Linked DNA regions of Homo sapiens. The protein of the gene in region 1 purifies or fractionates together with the protein of each later gene. This does not show direct contact. Each region holds a gene or a part of one and is shown in the gene's direction. Other genes may lie near its edges.

Region 1 (3,500 bases):
AAGACAACAGATAATTATCTCCAAAGAGCAATTACTAGATTGACATTAAATTCTCATGCACAGCAACAGATAGCCTCAACAGTGTAACACAGTGGAACATTATCTTTAAACTTCCAATAGAACTGACTAACAATCTAGAATTCTAAGGCTTGCAAAACTTTCATTCAAGACCAAGAATAAAATAATGGCAAGTTTAGAGAAAAATTCAGGTAATTTAGTTATTTCGCCTCTTGAATGAACATCTGAATGATATACTTAAAAAAGGAAGAAATTAAACCTGGAAGGAAGAAGTAGGATGCAAGAAATAATGGTGTGAGGGGAAAATGGCAAATATATTAGATGTATTACAAAATAATTATTAGAATGCCCAATTTGAGAATTATAAAAGAAGAAATTTGAATGAGGATAATATGTACCATAACTTGTAAGACTGTTAGATATGTATGATTAGAGTTAAAAGTACTAAGATTCTGTATTATAAAGGAAGGTAGAGATCATTGTAGGGATTGTTGACTTAGTGTTTTAGTTATACATGTTAAATACTTTGAGTAACAATTAAAATGTTACAGACATAATGTATGTCATCCAAAATACTAAAGGAAAAGGGGACCATAGAAAATCCAATTAATTAAAACAGTCAGGAAATAAATGCATCAAAGGAAAAATAGTATAGTTAAGTATTGGGTGTACAATTCCTCTTGGGTCTCTCATGTTTTTTTGCACATCTTTTGAGCAAAACCACTGACTCTATTTGTTCCAAAGTATATTTTCAAGGGTGCTTGTATAGATAACAGCCTTGAAATATAGAGATTATGTCCCTCTTCAGAGCAAAGACTAGGTTTGTTTACTGTCTGGTGTAATAAAAATAATGTTTTCCTCTGGCAAAGGTCAGGCAGGCTTACTGCCCAGTATAAAATAATTGGATTTCCTAAGATCAGGATTTCTCTCCTGTAACACAGCTCAGGGTATGTGCAGATGTCACGTGGCTCTCTTCATGATGTCCTGTGAAAACTGGGTTCTGGGAATTGGTGCAAATGATGATACTCTGGCAACTGCTATTGTTGTGAGTGATAAAGTCATTTGTCTCTGACCAAGGAGTCTTGTGTCTTCGTCCAGCATCCATGAAACTATAACAGGCTTGCACGTAGGATAAAATCTCAGACCCTTCACAATTCTTGACAGCAAGTAGAAAGAGTAAAGCTGACGGGAATAAACCCAATCATATAAGTAATTAGAATAAATGTGGATAGTGTGTGTGTGTGTATAGTTATTTTACCAGAAACCTGCTTAAAACATGGGGTGGGGGGAGGAATTTCAGAGTAAAGGCAAGCACTAATTTAAAAAAAAATTTAAGGTAATAAAACATTATCAGGGTAAAGGGGACCATTATGTACATGATAAAATCAACTATTTAATAGAAAGATTAAAGGAAATCTGAATTTGTATGTACCTATCAATATAGCCTCAGATATATTGTAGCAAAAATGGACAAAACCACATGGTATTATTGACAAATCCATCAATCCAATAAGATTTTCTATTAGTAAAGATAGAGAAGATTTGATCAATACAAATAAGTTTAAAGAACATATTTTGAACCACATACTCAATAATTAGAGAATGTGTGTTCTTTGTAAGAACACATGGAACATTTACAAAATACATGTTACAACACATTACAAAAATAAATCCACAAAGGAAGTTTCAACAAATGCTAAAGAAATCATATTACACACGGTGTTTTCCAACCATAATACAATAAATTATAAATCGATAGCAAAATGCTAACAAAATTAATACAATTCAAATATGTCTAGGTTTTTTTTTTTTTTTTTTTTTTTTTAACGGAGTCTTGCTCTGTTGCCCAGGCTGGGGTGCAGTGGTGCCATCGTGGCTCACAGCAAGCTCCGCCTCCCGGGTTCCCGCCATTCTCCTGCCTCAGCCTCCCGTGTAGCTGGGACTACAGGCGCCCACCAGTACGCCTGGCTAACGTTTTGTATTTTTAGTAGAGATGGGGTTTCATCGTGTTAGCCAGGATGGTCTCGATCTCCTGACCTCGCGATCCAACCGCCTTGGCCTCCCAAAGTGCTGGGATCACAGGCATGAGCCACTGCGCCCGTCCAAATATGTCCAGGTTAATGAAAAAATTAAAATAGAAGGTAGAAATATTTAGAACTGAATGTAAGCAAAAACATCACAGGTAAATAATGTATAGGATGAAACTCAAATACTACTTACTGGGAAATTTATAATCCCAAATGCAAGAAAAAAGTAAAAATTAATGAACTATGAATCTGACTCAAAAGTAATAAAGCAGTAATAAACTCAAAGGAATTCACTGGGAAAACTCTTTCCTGCCGTTCTCTTCAATTCAGTAGGAGAGGATAAGGAAACATGTATTGCCCTCAGGCCCTGCCTATTTATCCAATCCACTTTCTCAGGGAATCTTTCATTTAGTTAGATAGTCTGATGATTTGCATCCCATTGAATTCCTGGTCTACTCTCAACTGATCAGAGTCTGTCAGGATAGCTGTGACTTACATAGCACCAATAATTTACAGCAGGGTTCCTTTCCTTCTTTTATATGTTAATGCATACTACTCTATTCAATTAATGTAACAGGTGTGTCACTAAGTTTAGATGTTTCTTAAAAGGAAGGTGTGTGACATGAACATATAGAGGGGAACAGCATACACTGGGGCTTATCAGAGGGTGATGAGTGGGAGGAGAGAGAGAATTAGAAAAAATAACTAGTAGGTACTAGGCTTAATGCCTAGGTGATGAAATAATCTGTACAACAAATCTCCATGACACAAATTTACCTATGTAACAGACCTGCACAAGTACTCCTGAACTTAAAAGTTAAAAAAAAAAAAAAAAAAGGCCAGGCACAGTGGCTCACGCCTGTAATCCCAGCACTTTGGGAGGCTGAGGTGGGTGGATCACAAGGTCAGGAGTTCAAGACCAGCCTGGCCAACATGGTGAAACCCTGTCTCTATTAAAAATACAAAAATTAGCTGGGCGTGGTGGCAGGTGCCTGTAATCCCAACTACCCAACTACTCAGGAGGCTGAGGCAGGAGAATCGATTGAACCCGGGAGGCGGAGGTTATAGTGAGCTGAGGTCGCGCCATTGCACTCCAGCCTGGGTGACAGGGTGAGACTCTTATCTCGTAAAAAAAAAAAAAAAGGGTTGGTGGGGGAGATGGGAATGTGTGTGTGGCTGGTATACATTCTTGTTTTATTCAATTTAAGACTATCCATTGCTCAGTATAAAATATTGCTCAGTGTAAAATATGTTCTGACAGAGCTAGTTCAGGAAACAATCTGAATGAGTGTTTAAGTGCATAGGATCCATAAAGTTCTCAGCAGCTCAAAGCTGCTGACATAATCAAAAACCAGTGACTGTTGTAAAATGGCTTACATGGTTATTGTTTTTTTTCAATTAGGTGAGACTAAAGGTAGTCCTGGACAGTAATAAAATAGTGTTAGGTAAAGCTTG
Region 2 (3,500 bases), on another chromosome or scaffold:
AGCTGTCCTGTACGCCCGCCACGTGCTTGCATCCCTGCTCGCCGAGTGGCCTAGCCACGTGCCAGTGAGCGAGGACATCCTGGAGCTCAGTGGCCCTGCCCATATGACCTACATTTTGGATATGTTCATGCAGCTGGAAGAAAAGCATGAGTGGGAGAAGGTAGTTATGCAGACTGAGCTTGTGCTCACCCACCAGGTTCTTCCTCTGCCCCACAGGCTTCCTCCAGTGAGTGCTTCCTGGAGCGAGGCTACCTGTGTGGCTGTGCAGCTCCCTGACAGGTGTGAATGCAGCAAAGGTAGGGTCACTGTATCCTCTCCCAAGGATTGGGCTAGTGAGGAACTCAGGGGCCCTGAGCGCGATTTCCAGCTGAACCAGAAAGCTTTGTCGCCATCTTCCCAGTTTCCAAGTGCAGAAATCTTGAGGCACATTCGGTAGCTCCTTTTTGATCCTGTCCCTCACCCACCTTCACACACACACACGCAGTCCATGAGGAAGTTCATTTGGCCTCTCAGCCTTGCTTTGTCCATCTGAGAACACCACCAGACCTCGAGGTCTTTTCCCGGCCTTGCAGCCCTGCAGGTGCTGGCAGGCTTGCTCTAGCATATCTATCTTTCGGAAGGGACAGAGGGAGCCACCCTGCCTCTACTAGGCCCTTGCATAGGCGTGTCCTCCCACAGTTCTTGCCACCTAGAGCTCCCAACCCTGCACCTCACTCCAGGCATCGATTACATTGTGTGGTCATTATTTATCCATAGGCCAATCCACCTGCTTGGCTGGGGACTCCTTCAAGGACCAGGACCCTTTATGATTGGTTCAGTTAGTTCTTTCAGACCACCTCTAAGTAGCATCATTCTGAAAGGACTGCAGTGTCCTGATTGACACCAAGAGCCTGGTCAAGTGAGAGGTGGCTGGTGGAGTTGGTTTTGGGTGGTGGAGTCACAGAGGCTCGTCCTAGGTCTAAGATGATGCCAGCACCTTTGGGTGGAGCTTGGGTTGAAGTAAACTGTCCCTTCTTCCTGATGCCACTTGCAGGCCCTGACCTTATCTGTCTGCTTCCCACCAGATCCTGCAGAAAGTGCTCCAGGGCTGCCGAGAGGACATGCTGGGGACCATGGCCCTGGCTGCATGCCAGTTCATGGAGGAGCCAGGAATGGAGGTGCAAGTGAGGGAGTCGAAACACCCGTATAACAACAACACCAACTTCGAGGTAAGCCTGGGGCCGGCAGGCCCCATAAGAGCGACTGAGCCGCAGAGACCTCGTCAGCCCCTCCGTGCTCAGCCCCTCCATGCTCAGCCCCTCTGTGGCTCTCTCCCGCTGGACAGCAGAGACCTGTCCAGGAAAGTGCTTCCTTGAACAAACTGCAGTCTGCCTCCCTGAGGCCAGGGATTCTGTACAAGCAAGTCTTCTCTTCTCCGGACTTTTCTTGTTTTAATAGAAGAAAATGGGCCACCTAGCCCTGGAGGAGAGCTTTACTTTCCCTGCGGCAGGCTCCTCAGAGTGAGTCCTTGGCTTCACAGTGAGACAGTGAGTCTGAATGTGGTCCAGGTTGGACCCTCACTCTTCAGCTGCCACCTCATGACCTGCCCCCACCGTGGATACTACAGCCCCTTTTTAAAATTTCCCAGAACTGAATCAGAGTCTCATCTTTTCCATCCTTAACTTTGTGCCTGGGCAGGGAGGTAGGCATTTTGATGAGGCAGGAATGGGGCAGCCTCCGTTATTCTCATTGACTTAAGGCCATGTAGTCCCTTTAGCACTTTTTTTTGAGACGGAGTCTCACTCTGTCGCCCAGGCTGCAGTGCAGTGGTGTGATCTCGGCTCACTGCAACCTCCACCTCCCGAATTCAAGTGATTCTCATGCCTCAGCCTCCCTAGTAGCAGGAATAAAGGCACCTGCCACCATGCCCAGCTAATTTTTGTATTTTTAGTAGAGACGGGGTTTCACCATATTGGCCAGGCTGGTCTCTAACTCCTGACCTCAGGTGATCCACCCGCCTTGGCCTCCCAGAGTGCTGGGATTACAGGCGTGAGCCACCTCACCTGGCCCCCATTAGCGCTTTTAAAAATGTTGGAGAGAAAACTGAAATGTTGGAGTTGCCCAGGCATCTACTTCTGAGTGGAAGGCACCTGCAGCAGCGAAGGTGGATGATGAAAACCGATTTAGAACTGGGTTATTGGCCAGCTGAGATTTTGTTTTTCAGAAGTATAACCTGTCTTTCTTCCAAGTCTCTTCTCTTGTCATGTTCCTGGGCTCCAGCCCCACTCCCTTGGTCCCATACAGGCACATGTGGTCAGCCACCAGGTTCGATCCCAAAGAGGTCTTGTCTTCTCCACTGACCCTGGACACCCGTTGCCCTTCTCTGGGGTTCCTTTTGCTGCTACTTTCTGATTTCCTCACTTTTGCCTCAGCCCAGCCTTGCTCCACACCAGCTGTCAGTGATGCTACACTGTGCAAGCCTCACCAAAGCTTTCCAGGGTTTTCCCTGTTGTCCAGAGTCTGAGTGCCTCATTTTCATGCCCAGGGCCTTCAGTGTCTGCCCCTGCCAGTCTCTCTGGAGTCAGGTCTTGTCCCTGTTCCTGCTTCCCAAGCATACGTGCCCATGTAGCACACCCTTTACTCCAAACACGCCAAGCTCCTTGCCATTCCCTGAACATGCTAGACCTTCACAGGGCTGTTACCCTGTCTGAAATGCACCCCATGCACTCAGGTCCACCTTGTCTCCCACTCCCGCCTTCTCCTAACAGGGTCCTCCTGTCCTCTTCACTCTTCACAGCAGCCTGACACTCTTTCTCTGGGGCCCCGTGTTGCCTGCCCCGCTGTGCCTCCCTCGCACCATATTTGCAGTCTGTGCATGCTCCTCGCCCTAGCTGGACTCTGCACTCCTGGAGGCCAGGGCTGTGGTTCACTCATTCTCACACACCCGGGTCCAGCCACAGGACTCGGCATGGGACAGCTGCAGTCAGTGTCTAGTGAGCAGCATCGACAGATGTGTTCTCCATTTCCCCTCCCTAGGATAAAGTTCACATTCCTGGTGCCATCTACCTCTCAATCAAATTCGACTCTCAGTGCAACACAGAGGAGGGCTGTGACGAGTTAGCCATGTCCAGCAGCAGTGACTTCCAGCAAGACCGACACAGCTTCAGCGGGTCTCAGCAGAAGTGGAAAGATTTTGAACTTCCAGGTAGTGAAACAAATACTCGATTAGATAGGTTCTTCACAGGCAGTGTTTAAACTTAATATTGAGAAGGGAACTTACTGGAGAATGTTGAAACCCAACACCACTGCTGCCATTCCCTGTTGCTTCAGTTCCTGATGGGCCTCTGATCCTTGTGTGCCTAGGAGACACTCTGTATTACCGCTTCACCTCCGACATGAGCAACACCGAGTGGGGCTACAGATTCACCGTGACGGCCGGACACCTGGGGCGGTTCCAGACAGGTGTGTGCTCTGGGCTTTGCGTTCACACCATCTGCCTGCCAGGGACACTCCATGGCTGT
Region 3 (3,500 bases), on another chromosome or scaffold:
GGCATGCTATGTGTGAGTGATGATCCCTGCAGCATATGCCATAGGCTTGTTGTAGAGGAGCTGCTCAGTAAATGGTGGATTCAATTGAAACAAGTCTTTTTTGGATGCTTAATGGGAAGTTGTAGGGTGGGTATGATGGACTAAAAATTATTTCTAAAGAAGGTTATATATTGTATATATTCCAGAATCTTCCGTTTTTATCGTTTCTTAAATTAAAAAATAAAAATTTAACTCTGTCCCAGGTTAACTCAGATGTTAACACTTATATAGAAATTTTTTTCCTCTTTCCCCGTTAGGCATCTCACAGTATTTTCTGCTTGTCTGTTTAGGATGTTAGGTAGAGGAAAAGAGAGTGATAGAAGATTTTTTTTCTTAAAAAAAAAAAAAAAAAAAAAAAAAAACTGGGCCAGGCATGGTGGCTCACACCTGTAATCCCAGCACTCTGGGAGGCCGAAGCGGGTAGATCACAAGGTCAGGGTTCGAGACCAGCCTGACCAACATGGTGAAACCCCGTCTCTACTAAAAATACAAAAATTAGCCGGGTGCGGTGGCGCGTGCCTATAATCTCAGCTACTCAGGAGGCTGAGGCAGGAGAATCGCTTGAACCTGGGAGGTGGAGGTTGCAGTGAGCCGAGATCACGCCACGGCACTCCAGGCTGGGTGAAAGAGTGAGACTCCATCTCCAAAAAAAAAAAAAAAAAAAAAAGTTCAATGTTAGTATTTGCTGTCTATTTTAACTTCTTACTTTAAAGTAAAATTAGCAAAGTCTTATTGTTTCAACCTGATTTAAATTTTATCTCCCTTTTTTATTATTTAAAGGTTGGAGTCTTTATCACTGGCCTCAAAGGATGTAGACTTTTTTTTTTTAATAGAGATTTTTATTTTTGTCAGTCACTTTTAAGAGGATTAAAAATGTTGATCCCTTTCATATTTCCTCGTCCCTTTAAAAATATTCTATTATGACAAATTTCAAACATATGGAAGAGTGAATCTTGATCACCTATCTGTCTGTACCCTAATCCGTTAATCCATTTTTTTCTGATGAATTTCAAATTAAGTTGTGGACATCTGTGTATTTCACCCCTAAATACTTGAGCATATCCCTCATTTAACTTGATTTCTCTCTTACTTTCTACAATTTTATGCAAATGAGCTGTTTCCCATAGGTTCTGTCTTGATCTTAATCCTTTAAGGGTAAGGGCTAACTTGTGGTTGTGTTAATGGTCTTCATCGCTGCTGCCTATTTTTTTTTTTTAATTTCCTTAAAACAAAAGGTACTCTCAAAAGGCATATTGCACATGATTAGCAAGATTCAGAAGGAAGTGGTTAAAGTTTCTTACATGCCTTATACCTATGCTTTTAGTTCTTGTTTTGTATAAGGAATGTTGCATGAGGATATTGGAAAAAAATTTAAAATTAAGAGTTGAAGGCGGAACCTGATCTATAAGGATCCATTATGTTGAAGCCAAAGAAGCAGGTCTAGCTATTCTAAGTAAGTAGGCTGGAGAGGTGTTTCTTAACTCTATCTGGGTTTTGTTTTCCATTTGAAGAAAAATTATTTTAAGCAATTACCATTTTTGATTACTGTAATGACTCCTGTGTCCAAAAATTAATTACGTTTCTAATTATTAAAATAGAAAAAAAAATCTGTTCAAATTTTGTTATAAATAAAGACCCCAGACTTAACCTCAGTAATGCATTAGTTCTTAGCATAACTTTTGCATTTTCTGTTGCATAGGCTTTGTGATCTTTAACAGGATTATTTAAGCCTGAAATAATAGAGATACTATTTGGAGATCACTGTTTGACTAAGCCCTGAACATTTCCACGAATGTAGCCTTTAGAGAGAGAGGGTTCCTCAAGCTGTAGTTTCTTCCAGAGACATTGCTTGACTCCTCCTGGCCTCCCTTCATAAAGGATTTCTACATGGGCTGCATTTTAAGTGATCTTCTACTTTTGTATTTTTAGAAAATAATTCAAAATTTATAAATAGCAACTCTAATCTTAAACTGCTCTCCAGTATGTCCGCATTTTTATTCCAGAGAGAATTATTAATAAGTTGAAAACTGATTATATTTGACTTGAAATATTGACATTGATCTCTGGTATTGCCTGTTTTTGAACGTACTGTTCTTTTAATGTACAAAATAGATGTTTTTTGTGAGGAAGTTGTTTTTTTTTCTCCTAAGCATTGTTACCAAAATAAGACTTATTGAATGGTGACTTTAATACTAGCTTCTTAATATTCATAGAAATATTTAGATATCTAGGCTGGTGTATTTAGTCCTTGAGCATTTGCAGAATTACTTATCTGAAACATAAATAAGCTGTTAGTGTTATGTTATTAATAGTGAGTGTTGACTGTCTAGGCACTGTACCAGTCAGTCCTATGGAGACATTCTCCCATTGATTGCTCACACCAGTCCTGTTTCCAAAGCCCCTGAATGGTTACATTCAGCTGTACTGTCTTTCAGCAAGTTATACTATTTGTATCAAATTGGTTAGTGAAATCTTGTAGGTAATAGTCTTTCTTGAAAGTTTTGGAATTGATGTTTTTTGATGCTTCATGAAAAAAATGAGTTTTGAGTTTTGGAACCAAAATAGTAGTTGCTCCATGCTGGGCAGTGTGTTAGACCTTTTATATTTAATTCTGTTGAACCTGTGAGATAAGTATTAGTCCAATTTTGCCATTGAAGTTACTAAGACTAAGGTGAATTTGTGTAAATTGCATGTAGAGCTTGGGATTCACTCTCTGGTCTGACTTCAAAGCCATGTTCTTTCTGGTACATAGCCTTGTGCATGAAGTTTTTTTGCCATTTTATCCATATAAAAATTTTCCAGGAGGAGGATTTTTGCCTTAAACAAAAGAATAAAACATGTTTCGTATTTATTTATAGAAAAGGATTTTTTTTGGGGAAAGTTATAAAGCAGTTGCACACTAGAAAATGAGAAAGCTTTCATGAAGGAATGCAGGTCAGAAGACCTAGCTAGGTTAAACTCATTGCTTACCTCATCTTGATAGAGGAGATCTGGCTTCTTGCTATGTGGTTTTTCCATCTTCCTTCTACTTTGTCTTCTGTAAGAGAAAAATACTGATAAGTGACATTTATTATAGGTTATGTAAAATAATATATATGTGAAATTCCTTAAGATCTTAAGACTGAGCTAATTTTTTTTTATTAATTATGCTACTGTTGCTTCAGGGAACTAAGCAGTAAGCTGAAACCAATTCTGTGATGTTTGTCATTTATATTATCTGGAGAGTTGTTACCTACATTGCAGTTTATCCTGATTTCAATTTGACAATGTCTACATGTTCTTTTAAATTACTTGCTGAGTTGGTGAATTTTTGTTTCTGTTATTTTTAAAAACTGACAACATCCTTCTGCTTAAAAAAAATTCAGTGCTGTAGTTTTGCTTGCAGCCTGTATCTTAGCAGGGAACCCTTTGGAAACCCAGTCTCCAGAGAAAGTTTGACGGGCATCTTGGCATAGGCTGCT
Region 4 (3,500 bases), on another chromosome or scaffold:
TGGTATGTCAAACCTTTGGGGTTTGACTCAGAAACTGCTAACCTTTTAGAGGCTTTATATGTTGTACTGACCAAGGTAGGTTTGTATAGCAGCCCTATACTTTGGGGATCATTTGCCTACCATGGCATATATTTGAAATTGCTTTGGACAAGTTTTCTAGGCTATCTACCAGGTAGCTCATTAAACGTAATTCTTCAGATATGAGATAGTGGGCTTAGACCTAAGCCATACATATTTCTTTTCCCACATTCTGTTTAGGATGACAGTAATTCTGTTGTCTACCATTAATGCTACTACCTACTCCATAATTGCCTATTTAGCTCCTCTTTTCTTCCTTTTTATTTCATAAGACTGCTAGGAAGTGATTTTTTAAAATTAGGACTCCTTAAGAATAAACTTTTCCAGAAGCACGAGGTAGTTTGCAAAGGAAAAGTCTGCACTGTTTGCTCTAAAGAGCTTCTCCTCATTCCAATGTGTTTTGCTTCATGCTAGAAGCATATGCAACAGTGAATAAAAGCTTCTTTTTTTGTTAATCAGTCAATAAATTTGGCTAATTAGTTTCAGAGTTCAAGGAAGAAGCAAAATATCACATCTCTAGAAGTGTTGGGAAAAATATAATTTCTTTCTTTACTTATATTCACCTCATGGTAGGTTATATTGAAGGCTGACATGGAGAATGTTTACTTTTCTATTTGGCATAGCTAACTACACTTTGATACTAACTCCAGTTTTACTATTATTATTTTGGTTGGAAAAAAAATTCACTCTTTACGTGCTAATTTGTAATCTTGTTTTGTAAGAATTTATCCTACCCTTGAAACAGGCTCAGTGTAACTGTATATCCATTCTAGGCTTTCTTAATAAATCTTGAGGCTATGGGATAATCACATTTAAAGAATGGTTCCTGAAATGAAGTCAGTAGAAATGGCATGGGATAAGAGCAGAGCTCACACTTTTACAGTTGCAGTATTTCAAAGTCCCTATCCAGGTCACTCCAGAAAAGGGTATTGAAACGTTGAAATCTAAAGCAAATTTGCAATTTCTTAAGATTTCTAAAATTTACCAGAACAGTTTAGCCTGGGGGTTAATAGTTAAGTCTTGAGGCTAAGTTTTGGACTACCAAGGACCAGATGATTCACATGTAGGAAACAGCCAGAAGCCAACTGGAATTTTGTGTGCTAACTGTTCCCAGACAGCAGAGCAAGTATTCACTGAGTAGGGGTGTCCCATGACACTATTTCATATTCTACAGAAGTAAATCAGGTTTCACCAACTGAAATGTCTCCCTTTGAAAGTAGCAAACATGATTTGTATGTTAACTTAACTTTAATTTCCTGTGTAGTTTACACCCAGAGCAGATACTCATAAAGTATAAAGTAAAAACTTTTAACCATTATTAAACAGAGAACTTGCCATGTTGAGTGCCATTGTATTGAACTTATTCTAAAGGCTTATGCTAACCCATTTATAATTGGTAAAAATCAGAAAATACAAGATTTACATAAAGGTCATTTCAACTTTTAAGGTTACCAGTGATTGTATAAAAACATCACAATCCTAAATCCTCTCGTATCTCACCCCAAACCCCAAACTGGGGGAAAAAAAGTTAACTCTTTGTGAATGGAACCAATGTGCAAGATACATACTGCATTTTTAAAATAGTGTCTCAGCTAAATGGAAAACTGTTAAGCAAACATCCATAGTAAAACAAATAATCTTCAGTGAGATCTTTTTATAAAACTTCTTGTTTTTAGGATTCCCTTTGCTTCTTCCTTTGAATTCTCTAAAATAGGCAGCTAACGGATTATATACTTCAGGGTTTGGCTTTGTGCTAAATGTGGTTTTGTGTTTTGCTGTATTTCAAAATTTTCCTTCTGTTAAAGGAAAATATTGTGAATAACCACTGGTGTGTTCTTAGATCAGCACAAACCATGTCAAAAAAAATTGGAGATTTTTTTCCAATTTTCCTTCCACTGATCTTAGGCAGTAATAAACAATGGCATTTGTCATCTTTGGCACTTGCTTTTAGATTATAGTCCCACAGTTGCACTGCCCCAATTGTCTACCTTTGTGGGTACATTTTTGTTCTTTACTCCTAAGTTATTTCTCATAGAACCCAGCCTACTCTAGAATTTCAGCAGTGACATTGGAGAATATTTTTAATTTGCTGCAGTACTATGTCATATTATTAGTATGAATCTCATTTCCCAAAGGGTTTGTATTCTGCTAAAAGGAGATGCCAATGTTGAATGAAGTCTGAAACTCTAGTATGTGCATAGTTTGACGTGCAGCATGCACACCAGGCCTTAAGATGGGAATGTAGCTTAATGATTTTCTGTTTCCCATACCATTTCTAATCTTTTGTGTAATTTTCTCTTAACTGATTGCTCTGATATTGTAAACACAATAGATGTAGCTCTATCATGTCTAGCATAATTTAAAAAATCAGTGTTTTTAGGATTTGGGAAAATAAACTGTAAATGTTTATTTGATAGGTAAATATAGTTTTATTGTCACATGCTAAATATTGCATGCATATTGACTAATTGGAATAACCATTTACTCAATTATGGACAGCTTATTGAAATAGTATTGATTTAGAAAAAGTATATTGCATTTCTAAAAAACATCTACCAAGGTTACTCGTCTGAATATTGCTTTTAGCCGTGTTTTATAACATAGACGAGCAGTAGGGTCTGTTTATTAGCAAATTTCCTATTTGTTCCAATACAAACTCACTTTATTCTAAAGTATATTAATGAAACCAGTTCCTGTGATGTAACTGTAAGCCTTCTCGACTTAGACTTAAAAAGTGGTCACATAGATTAATTTTGTGACTTTTTAGTATAGACTGTAGCCATAATTCTCAAATATGAAATGGGACCTAATACCAGTATGTGATAAATGTTGATGTTTTCTGTGTACAAACACATTTTCTATGCATGTGTCTCTGTGTATATGGCATATACCTAGTAAGTATGTTTCTGTAAGTATGTGTATTTTATGTCCATTTGAGTAGGTAGGTAGGTTTTAAAAATACTAGTTAAAATGCCACAAGCATGAGTGTGATTGTATGTGCACTGTGTGTATATATATAAATATATGTATATGTATGGTTGTAAATATCTATGTATACATGTACTTAGTATGTGTGGTATCAGGATATTTTTTAAACTGTGATAATACAACAGATAGCTTTGAATGATCTGCCATAACATGTGGTAACAATAGTTCATTTCTCATAACATATATGAGGTATACAAAATTTTCTAACTCCAGATTGTAGTCATTTTGAGAGGTACAAAGCTCATAATTACCATGACAACATGGTAATGTCCATAGACATTTGTATCTGAATCCACAAGAAGATCTGAATCTAAGAAGGAATTACCTTTGACAATATTTTTCGGTAAGAAGTAAAACCTCTGGAGACCTATCTTTAAGATCTCTAATTGGAATTATAAATTATTTTTGGATTGCTGAGCTGAATCTTAAAAAGC
Region 5 (3,147 bases), on another chromosome or scaffold:
ATAAAGACTGAGTCATTTCCTTAAAACAGTGTTCTTTAACCTCCTCTTCTTCACATACAGCATATCTAATTCTTTATCACAACAGGTTTTATGGAGGTACACAGAATGTAGGATACTGATAATAGTTATGTCTTTATTTTCTTTGGAAAATGAAATGAGTTAATATTTATCAAAAAAAGTCAGTCAGATAGTAAATATCGTATTCCTGTGAGCTGTTATTATTATCATTGATGTACAAGACTAAAAATTAGGTAAGTATTCTCACAGGACAACAGGTAACTTTGACATTATGTTTCTTTCAATATTGTAGTGTATACTTTATCAAAAAAAGAATATAAGAATATTACCGATGAAGATAATAAGAATAAGAAAACGATTTTGAGCGTTTCATATAACAAATAGGACCAGGCGTGGTGGCTCTTGCATGTAACTCAGCACTTTGGGAGGCTGAGGCAGGAGAATTCCTTGAGGCCTGGAGTTTGGGACCATCCTGGACGATATAGCAAGACCCTGTCTCTAAAGAACAAAGCACAACAAGTCTAAAATAACTCAGAAATAGCTGAAAGCTAATTTTTATATAATATAAACTTATCGGTTAAAATGCTTTAAAGTCCTTATGCAAAATGTTTTTTTTTCCTAAATTTCTTCTAGGTAATTGATCTGGGTGGTGAGCCAATTAAAAGCAGTGACTACTTTGGTAATGGCCGGGTGACAGAATTCAAGTATGGTGCAAAACTCGGCACAGTTATTCGCAAGTGGAATGGAGAGAAGATGTCTTACTTAAAGTAAATAAATACAACTTTTCCCCTGAACTATTTCATAGATCTGTTAGTCATACTACCCCAGTGCGAGTTATCTTCTGGAACATTCTTATTCAGACAACTATTAAGGAGTCAGTTGTTAATGATAAGTATTCTAGTGCCCTAAACTCTAATCAATCATCTTTTGTATTTAGAGTGTCTGTCACAAGACAGTATGCCTAGGAACGCTAAACTTACCCTAGGAGTTTCTGTCTGCGTACAAGATGAATATACTGGATTTGACTGATGTTTGCATATAATCTTTTAAAGCCAGGTTATTATTAAAATGATCCTATCATTTATAAAGTATGTACAAAGTGTCCATGCTATTGTATTTACTTATACGAATTGGAAATGTAAAATGATTTATATTATAACAATACAATATTAAAGCCTTATTTTAATCTAGTTTGACATTCTGTATAATGTGATGTGGATATTGATCCTTCTGGAGTGCCTCTAAATGATAATGTGCTGAAACCTCTGAAAGGAAATTTTTTAATAACAAACATTTTATATTTGTAATATGAATATAAGTATTCCATACATGTATATACAAATATGGACTATATATATGTAGATTACACACGTGTGTTTGTTTATGAGGTGTGTGTGTATATATATGTGAGTGTGTGTTTGTGTGTGTGTGTGTATATATATATATCTTACAGAGTAACCATCTAATTAGAGAAAGAATTTAATCTTCAGATGCCATGCCTTACAGAAAGAGATGCACAGTAGAGTTACTCTCAAACTATTGTGAAATGATACATCAACGTATATCTTATGTTTCAAAAATAGGAACTGGGGAGAAGGTTGGGGTTTCATGCCTTCTGACAGAGCGCTTGTCTTTGTGGATAACCATGACAATCAACGAGGACATGGCGCTGGAGGAGCCTCTATACTTACCTTCTGGGATGCTAGGTAGAAAACCAAGTTCTCTATTTTTTAACACCTCTTTTAATGATGGTATGAATATTGTGATATTCTATGATAATATAATTATGTAACTTTCAGGCTGTACAAAATGGCAGTTGGATTTATGCTTGCTCATCCTTATGGATTTACACGAGTAATGTCAAGCTACCGTTGGCCAAGATATTTTGAAAATGGAAAAGTAAGTTTTGGAGTTGTTCAAAATATCCTTTTCTCAAGAAAAAAGAGGCAATCTTCTCCTAATTTAATATGACAACTATTAAGTGTTTATTTATTCAACAAATATTTAATTATTGTAAACCTGATACAGGGTTGTGATTTAGTAATGCAGGTTATATTAAAGGAATAAACTTTATATTCTCCATTGAAAAAGAATAGCAAGCTTTTTCAGAGATATGACAAACATCCCCCTAGCCCGCAGGGAAAATAAAAATAAAAATTAAAAAAACCACTTAAAAATAAGAGCTAGGCACAGGGATTAAAATATATACTTCGTACCTTCCTCAGGTTTAATTGGAAGAATATAGATGCCAACCCTTGTAGAGAACTTAAAACATCATCTGCCCGTAGTGAGAACAATATAAATGTCTTTTAAATACTGTTAAAAAGTTATATGGTATAGAAACAAATGATCCAGTTCAGCTGAGTTAAATAGGGAAAGTATACTATAAGAGGAAGGAAATTGTATGTACTAAAGGATAGAAATTTATAGAGAGTATTCCAAGAAAGGTAAGAATGAGAAAAATATTTGGGAGTATGGTAAAGACATCACTCTGCTGAGTAGTTTCAAAAAGGAACAGAGAAATAAGAGTGTAAAGATATTTGGAAAGCTAGTAGAAGGTTTTCTTTTAAACTAAAGGGTTGAGAAACAGCATCAGAGACTTCAGAACTAAAGCAGAAATTCCTCCTTCCTATGAGTCACACAGATATCTAGCTAGCTTTTTTTAGATTCCTTTCAGTTTGAGAAGTCCGCTACTATGTATAACAACTGATTCTATTGTTAAACAGCTTTAATATTTAGAAGGTGTACTTTTATATTGAGACAACTTCTTATAATTTCTACTAATTGGTCTTATTTCTGTTGTTAGGAGTCAGAGAGTTCTTTTATTTTTTCTATTACTATAACATTCCCACTTTGACAGGACTGCTGCATGCTATAAACTCTTAAGTTTTGTTCACTTTTCACCATATGACGTGATTTTAAGGTGAACACTGATAAACTTCCTAGGGTTACTCTGTGTTTTTTAATGAAGATTTCTTAAAGTGCCAATCAGAAAAGCATAATACTAAAAATATGGTCAATTTATAAAAAAAAATGTTCAGATGTAGTATTTTGTACATTTATCTAAAAAGAAGCATGACGGCCTCCAATATTTATTTAGCATATGTCATGTTCAAGGCATTTTCACAT
Region 6 (3,500 bases), on another chromosome or scaffold:
TTTCTCTTTTCTCAATACTCAGGCAGCCTAAGTGAGGCTGCCCCAATTAATAGCATTGTCAGGAGCTTGGATAACAGCCCACTGGTGATTCGAGCCACAGATGCTGACAGCAACCGGAATGCTCTGCTTGTGTATCAGATTGTGGAGTCAACAGCAAAAAAGTTTTTCACGGTGGACTCCAGTACAGGTGCAATCAGAACAATTGCCAACCTGGACCATGAAACCATTGCCCATTTCCATTTTCATGTGCATGTGAGAGACAGTGGTAGCCCCCAACTGACTGCAGAGAGTCCCGTTGAAGTCAACATTGAGGTGACAGATGTGAATGATAACCCACCTGTTTTTACTCAGGCTGTGTTTGAGACTATCTTACTTCTACCTACCTATGTTGGAGTGGAGGTTCTGAAAGTTAGTGCCACAGATCCTGACTCTGAGGTACCCCCTGAACTGACATACAGCCTAATGGAAGGCAGTTTGGATCATTTTTTAATTGACTCAAACAGTGGAGTACTTACCATAAAAAACAACAACCTCTCCAAGGATCACTACATGCTGATAGTTAAGGTGTCTGATGGAAAGTTCTACAGTACCTCCATGGTCACCATCATGGTTAAAGAAGCCATGGACAGCGGCCTCCACTTTACACAAAGCTTCTATTCCACCTCAATCTCAGAGAACAACACTAACATAACCAAAGTTGCTATTGTCAATGCAGTTGGAAATCGCCTTAATGAGCCCTTAAAATACAGCATCTTAAACCCAGGAAATAAGTTCAAGATAAAATCTACCTCAGGGGTCATTCAGACGACTGGAGTCCCCTTTGACCGTGAAGAACAAGAGTTATATGAGCTGGTGGTAGAAGCCAGCCGTGAGCTGGACCATCTGCGTGTGGCCAGAGTGGTGGTCAGGGTTAACATTGAAGACATAAATGACAATTCTCCAGTCTTTGTGGGCCTCCCATACTATGCTGCTGTTCAAGTGGATGCGGAACCCGGGACTCTGATTTATCAGGTGACAGCCATTGACAAAGATAAAGGTCCAAATGGAGAAGTGACCTATGTCCTGCAGGATGACTATGGCCACTTTGAAATTAACCCTAATTCAGGGAATGTTATTTTAAAGGAAGCATTCAACTCTGACTTGTCCAACATTGAGTATGGAGTCACCATCCTAGCCAAGGATGGCGGAAAACCTTCTTTGTCTACATCTGTGGAGCTTCCCATCACTATTGTCAACAAAGCAATGCCTGTGTTTGATAAGCCCTTTTATACAGCATCTGTCAATGAAGACATCAGAATGAACACACCCATCCTAAGCATCAATGCCACCAGTCCAGAAGGCCAAGGCATCATATATATCATTATCGATGGGGACCCTTTTAAACAGTTTAACATTGACTTTGACACTGGGGTCCTGAAAGTTGTTAGCCCTTTGGATTATGAAGTTACATCTGCTTACAAGCTGACAATAAGAGCCAGCGACGCCCTTACTGGTGCTAGGGCTGAAGTCACTGTTGACTTGCTAGTTAATGATGTAAATGACAACCCCCCTATTTTCGATCAGCCTACATACAATACAACACTATCAGAAGCATCTCTTATTGGGACACCTGTTTTACAAGTTGTCTCTATTGATGCAGACTCAGAAAACAATAAAATGGTACATTATCAGATTGTCCAGGATACCTACAATAGCACAGATTATTTTCACATAGATAGCTCAAGTGGCTTAATCCTGACAGCACGAATGCTGGACCATGAGTTAGTACAACACTGCACTTTGAAAGTCAGATCAATAGATAGTGGCTTCCCATCACTGAGCAGTGAGGTTCTCGTTCATATCTACATCTCTGATGTAAATGACAACCCTCCAGTTTTTAATCAGCTCATTTATGAGTCATATGTGAGTGAATTAGCCCCCCGGGGCCATTTTGTAACCTGTGTACAAGCCTCTGATGCAGACAGCTCTGATTTTGACCGGTTGGAATATAGCATTTTATCTGGGAATGACCGGACGAGCTTTCTGATGGACAGCAAGAGTGGAGTTATCACATTGTCCAACCATCGGAAGCAGCGGATGGAGCCTCTGTACAGTCTCAATGTGTCTGTCTCTGATGGGTTGTTCACCAGCACTGCACAGGTGCATATTAGGGTACTTGGGGCTAACTTGTACAGCCCTGCCTTTTCACAAAGCACATACGTAGCTGAGGTGAGAGAGAACGTGGCTGCAGGAACAAAGGTAATTCATGTTCGAGCCACAGATGGTGATCCAGGGACTTATGGGCAGATCAGCTATGCCATCATCAATGACTTTGCCAAGGATCGATTCCTCATAGACAGCAATGGGCAGGTCATCACCACAGAAAGGCTAGACCGGGAAAACCCTCTAGAAGGGGATGTTAGTATTTTTGTGAGGGCCCTTGATGGTGGAGGGAGAACAACTTTCTGCACTGTGAGAGTGATTGTTGTGGATGAAAATGACAATGCTCCCCAGTTCATGACAGTGGAATATAGAGCCAGTGTCAGGGCAGATGTTGGAAGGGGCCACTTGGTCACTCAAGTTCAAGCCATAGATCCCGATGATGGAGCAAATTCAAGGATTACTTATTCCCTCTATAGCGAGGCCTCTGTTTCAGTGGCCGACCTCCTGGAAATCGATCCTGACAATGGCTGGATGGTCACAAAGGGTAATTTTAACCAGCTGAAAAATACAGTGCTTTCGTTCTTTGTCAAAGCAGTAGATGGGGGCATCCCAGTAAAGCACTCCCTCATTCCTGTCTATATCCACGTCTTGCCCCCTGAAACGTTCTTGCCATCATTCACCCAGTCTCAGTATTCCTTTACCATTGCAGAAGATACAGCCATTGGGAGTACAGTGGACACCCTGAGGATTTTGCCCAGTCAGAATGTCTGGTTCAGCACAGTTAATGGGGAACGGCCAGAAAATAACAAAGGGGGCATATTCGTCATAGAACAGGAAACAGGCACTATTAAGCTTGACAAACGCCTTGACCGTGAAACCAGCCCAGCTTTCCACTTTAAAGTAGCAGCCACTATACCCCTGGACAAAGTAGACATTGTGTTTACTGTGGATGTAGATATCAAGGTATTGGATTTGAATGACAACAAGCCAGTCTTTGAAACTTCAAGCTATGACACCATTATAATGGAAGGGATGCCTGTTGGCACCAAACTCACACAAGTGAGAGCTATTGATATGGACTGGGGAGCCAATGGACAAGTCACTTACTCCCTCCACTCGGATTCCCAGCCCGAAAAGGTAATGGAAGCATTCAATATTGACAGCAACACGGGCTGGATCAGTACCTTGAAGGACCTAGATCACGAGACAGACCCCACATTCACCTTCTCTGTGGTGGCCTCTGACCTTGGAGAGGCATTCTCTCTTTCCTCCACGGCCTTGGTCTCTGTCAGAGTGACAGATATAAATGACAATGCACCAGTCTTCGCGCAGGAAGTGTACCGAGGGAATGTGAAGGA
Region 7 (3,500 bases), on another chromosome or scaffold:
ATCAGTTATGGGCACTGTGTGTGGAGTCTTGGGCTGCTTTCTGCCTGGAGGGAATATCCCGTCAAGGAATCATTAGGCAGATATACCAGGTATACAAGAGCTCTGTGCCAGCTGAGCATCCTGGTGCGGGGAAGTCTGAAACGGAGAGGAAAGTAGAGCCTGATGACATAAATCTGGGCAGGCTTCCTGGAGCAGGTGAGCTAGGGCAGGTTAGAAGACTCAGAGGACTGTGGGCTGGTGTCTGGGTGGGAAGGAACAGCCTGTGCAGCAGCTTTGAGACGAGAGCAGGAGGAACAGAAGTGGGTGATGACAAGCAGGCTTGCTGGTGAGAGCTAGTGAGAATAAGCAAGTGATGAGGCTGGAGGGTAGGTGGGCAGTCGGCTGAGGACATGGCTGAGATGGGGGTCTGCTTTCAGCCTTCCCGGCTTCAGCTGAGCCACCGCTGGTACAGTCAGCCACCGCAAGTAGGTACAACACAGATGCAGAATTTGTTCCCATGTCCCTTGCCTACTCCCACCCCACCCCAGAAACATGGGCTCCTGCCCCGTTACTGCTAGGGTAAGCATTTGCTTTTTATATCTAGTTGGGCTCCCCCTGCTATGTGGTTTTGTTTGTTTGTTTGGGACAGAGTCTCACTCTGTCACCCAGGCTGGAGTACAATGGCGCGATCTCGGCTCACTGCAACCTCTGCCTCCTGGGTTCAAGCAATTCTCCTGCCTCAGCCTCCTGAGTATCTGGGACCTCCTGAGTAGCTGAGATTACAGGCACCCACCACCACGCCCAACTAATTTTTGTATTTTTAGTAGAGACGGGGTTTCACCATGTTGGTCAGTCTGATCTCGAACTCCTGACCTCGTGATCCACCCGCCTCAGCCTCCCAAAGTTCTGGGACTACAGGCGTGAGCCACTGCGCCCGGCCCCCTGCTATGTTTTAAAGTCCGTTTATTCTTTGTGGAGACTGAATAGATTGTCATCCACATCTCAGTGTTTTCTGAACACCTACTATGTGTAAGGCATTGTAATAAATACAAATATGAATATGCCAGTAGCTCATGCCTGTAATCCCAGTGCTCTAGAAGGCTGAGATGGAGGATCACTTGAGGCCAGGAATTTGAGACCAGCCTGGACAACACAGCAAGACCCCATCTCTACACACAAACAAAAATTAGCCAGGCATAGTTGTGAGCACCTGTGGTCTCAGCTATTTGGGAGGTTGAGGTGGGAGGATCGCTTGAGCCCAGGAGTTCGAGGCTACAGTGAGCTATGATCGTGCCACTGCTCTCCAGTGTAGGCGACAGAGAGTCTGTCTCTTAAAAAAAAAAAAAAAAAGACTATCCCTTCTTGCCCTGTAAAGCCATTTCCTCCTTCTCCAGGCCCCAGCTTTCATTTTTTAGCTAAATAAAATTCATTCCCATGTGTATGTGCATTCAGGTGTGTATGGTATTTCTGGGCTTAGGGTGTGTGGGTGGAATGAGACACCAGCAAGTGTGTTTTAGTGCTTAGCTGTTTATAAGTGAGTGTGTTGCCTGGGGGCATAGCAGGCATTTGGGTGTAATGGTTGAGCCAAGTGGGTGATGAGTAGCTAGAGGCCCTAGGACCAGAGAAGAGACTGACTCAGTGGGGCTCTGGGGTCTCAGAGTGGAGAGCTGCCCAGGCCCTTCTATCTCTGCCTTCCGGTCCCCCACCCCGACTCACCCTGTCTCCAGCATGGGGCAGTGGGTGATGATGTCACTGGTTAACGTGGCTCAGCTGGATTTCCTGGGGTGGGGCCCCCCAGGCTACCCACAGCAGCCCAGAGAGTTGGGCGGGAAGAATGCTTTGTGTTGGATGTTGCCATGGGGATAGCAGGTCTGCGCGCCCAAGCAGCCATGGGGCTCAGTGGGAGGGGGACTAGGTGGCCCACTGACCCAGTTTACCCACTCCCCCCCACCCCCGCCAACTCCCTGCTGCTGTGGGGGAGTGGGGAACACAGCCATGGTTGCGATTATCGTGGTGTTGAGGTGTAGAGGCTGAGGGGGCAGGGGGATGATTTTTGTGGGTCTCAGGATGCTCTGGGCCCTGTAGAAAAGTATGAAAAAGACAACATAGGGTTCCCGCGCAGGCAGCACAGACTCTGGGGGAAGGGAGCAGGAGCGGTGGCTTGGGCAGGGAAAGGTGCACAAACATTAAGAGGTGTGCCGTGCATCAGCGACAGAAGGTTTTGGGAAAGGATGCAAAGAGAACTGCAAATCTCATCCCCTGAGCCCTGAAGGAGTGATTGGCCCACACGTGACATACCTGGCTCAGCACCCTTATGCCAGTTGGAAAGGAGAGCCTTTCTTGGTGGGTGGTGCAGGAATATGCAGGCTGAATTGCAGCCCCAGGCTGGGTCCTGACTGTGTCCCTCTCCACAGACGGCGTACACAGCGTGACCGCCCAGTGCGCGCTGCGTGTGACCATCATCACCGATGAGATGCTCACCCACAGCATCACGCTGCGCCTGGAGGACATGTCACCCGAGCGCTTCCTGTCACCACTGCTAGGCCTCTTCATCCAGGCGGTGGCCGCCACGCTGGCCACGCCACCGGACCACGTGGTGGTCTTCAACGTACAGCGGGACACCGACGCCCCCGGGGGCCACATCCTCAACGTGAGCCTGTCGGTGGGCCAGCCGCCAGGGCCCGGGGGCGGGCCGCCCTTCCTGCCCTCTGAGGACCTGCAGGAGCGCCTATACCTCAACCGCAGCCTGCTGACGGCCATCTCGGCACAGCGCGTGCTGCCCTTCGACGACAACATCTGCCTGCGGGAGCCCTGCGAGAACTACATGCGCTGCGTGTCGGTGCTGCGCTTCGACTCCTCCGCGCCCTTCATCGCCTCCTCCTCCGTGCTCTTCCGGCCCATCCACCCCGTCGGAGGGCTGCGCTGCCGCTGCCCGCCCGGCTTCACGGGTGACTACTGCGAGACCGAGGTGGACCTCTGCTACTCGCGGCCCTGTGGCCCCCACGGGCGCTGCCGCAGCCGCGAGGGCGGCTACACCTGCCTCTGTCGTGATGGCTACACGGGTGAGCCAAGGGAGGGGACTCATGGGCCAGCCCTGGAAGGCTGACTGTGTGGTGCAGGCACAAATCAGGACAAATGCTGGCGGCTGCCTCATTCTCTTCCCGAGTGAGGTGCAGCTACACTGAGAGGTCATAAATCCGGCCTGCTCCCTGACAGCACCCCACTGAGGAAGGCAGTGCAAGGAGTGCTTCTCCCTGCTGTGCACAGGACACACAGGCAGTGCCATTGTGGGCAGAGCTGGCTCCAGAGCCAGTCGGCCTGTGTTCGTGTATCAGCTTTGCCGCTAGTAGCTGTGTGACCTTGAACAAGTTACTTAACCTTTCTGGCCCTCGGTTATTTGAAATGGAGATAATGACCGTACTTAGGTCATAAGTTGGTTGTGAGGATTAATGTAATTAATTTGATACTTGGAAACAGCTGGTGGCATGGAAGGTGTTGGCCTTGATTTAAGGGAACGCTGA

The links.
Region 2: the proteins of ZBBX (region 1) and ZZEF1 purify together in Homo sapiens (affinity purification with mass spectrometry; 2 studies listed by BioGRID and IntAct, with this or other methods). This does not show direct contact.
Region 3: the proteins of ZBBX (region 1) and URI1 purify together in Homo sapiens (affinity purification with mass spectrometry; 2 studies listed by BioGRID and IntAct, with this or other methods). This does not show direct contact.
Region 4: the proteins of ZBBX (region 1) and DNM3 purify together in Homo sapiens (affinity purification with mass spectrometry; 2 studies listed by BioGRID and IntAct, with this or other methods). This does not show direct contact.
Region 5: the proteins of ZBBX (region 1) and AMY1C purify together in Homo sapiens (affinity purification with mass spectrometry, with the first as the bait; 2 studies listed by BioGRID). This does not show direct contact.
Region 6: the proteins of ZBBX (region 1) and FAT3 purify together in Homo sapiens (affinity purification with mass spectrometry; 2 studies listed by BioGRID and IntAct, with this or other methods). This does not show direct contact.
Region 7: the proteins of ZBBX (region 1) and CELSR2 purify together in Homo sapiens (affinity purification with mass spectrometry; 2 studies listed by BioGRID and IntAct, with this or other methods). This does not show direct contact.

What each region holds. Positions count from the first base shown.
Region 1 is NC_000003.12:167,300,298-167,303,797, reverse strand, and holds part of ZBBX (zinc finger B-box domain-containing protein 1), read left to right. Parts: intron 1-3,500.
Region 2 is NC_000017.11:4,014,031-4,017,530, reverse strand, and holds part of ZZEF1 (zinc finger ZZ-type and EF-hand domain-containing protein 1), read left to right. Parts: coding exon 1-160; intron 161-756; exon of another isoform or gene 757-898; intron 899-1,064; coding exon 1,065-1,208; intron 1,209-3,015; coding exon 3,016-3,184; intron 3,185-3,342; coding exon 3,343-3,441; intron 3,442-3,500. UniProt on the Homo sapiens protein: Histone H3 reader which may act as a transcriptional coactivator for KLF6 and KLF9 transcription factors.
Region 3 is NC_000019.10:29,980,239-29,983,738, forward strand, and holds part of URI1 (unconventional prefoldin RPB5 interactor 1), read left to right. Parts: exon of another isoform or gene 1-12; intron 13-3,500. UniProt on the Homo sapiens protein: Involved in gene transcription regulation. Acts as a transcriptional repressor in concert with the corepressor UXT to regulate androgen receptor (AR) transcription.
Region 4 is NC_000001.11:172,407,998-172,411,497, forward strand, and holds part of DNM3 (dynamin-3), read left to right. Parts: 3' UTR 1-3,500. UniProt on the Homo sapiens protein: Microtubule-associated force-producing protein involved in producing microtubule bundles and able to bind and hydrolyze GTP. Most probably involved in vesicular trafficking processes, in particular endocytosis.
Region 5 is NC_000001.11:103,752,898-103,756,044, forward strand, and holds part of AMY1C (alpha-amylase 1C precursor), read left to right. Parts: intron 1-651; coding exon 652-785; intron 786-1,601; coding exon 1,602-1,724; intron 1,725-1,817; coding exon 1,818-1,917; intron 1,918-3,147. UniProt on the Homo sapiens protein: Calcium-binding enzyme that initiates starch digestion in the oral cavity.
Region 6 is NC_000011.10:92,798,318-92,801,817, forward strand, and holds part of FAT3 (protocadherin Fat 3 isoform 1 precursor), read left to right. Parts: coding exon 1-3,500.
Region 7 is NC_000001.11:109,256,039-109,259,538, forward strand, and holds part of CELSR2 (cadherin EGF LAG seven-pass G-type receptor 2 precursor), read left to right. Parts: intron 1-2,393; coding exon 2,394-3,041; intron 3,042-3,500. UniProt on the Homo sapiens protein: Receptor that may have an important role in cell/cell signaling during nervous system formation.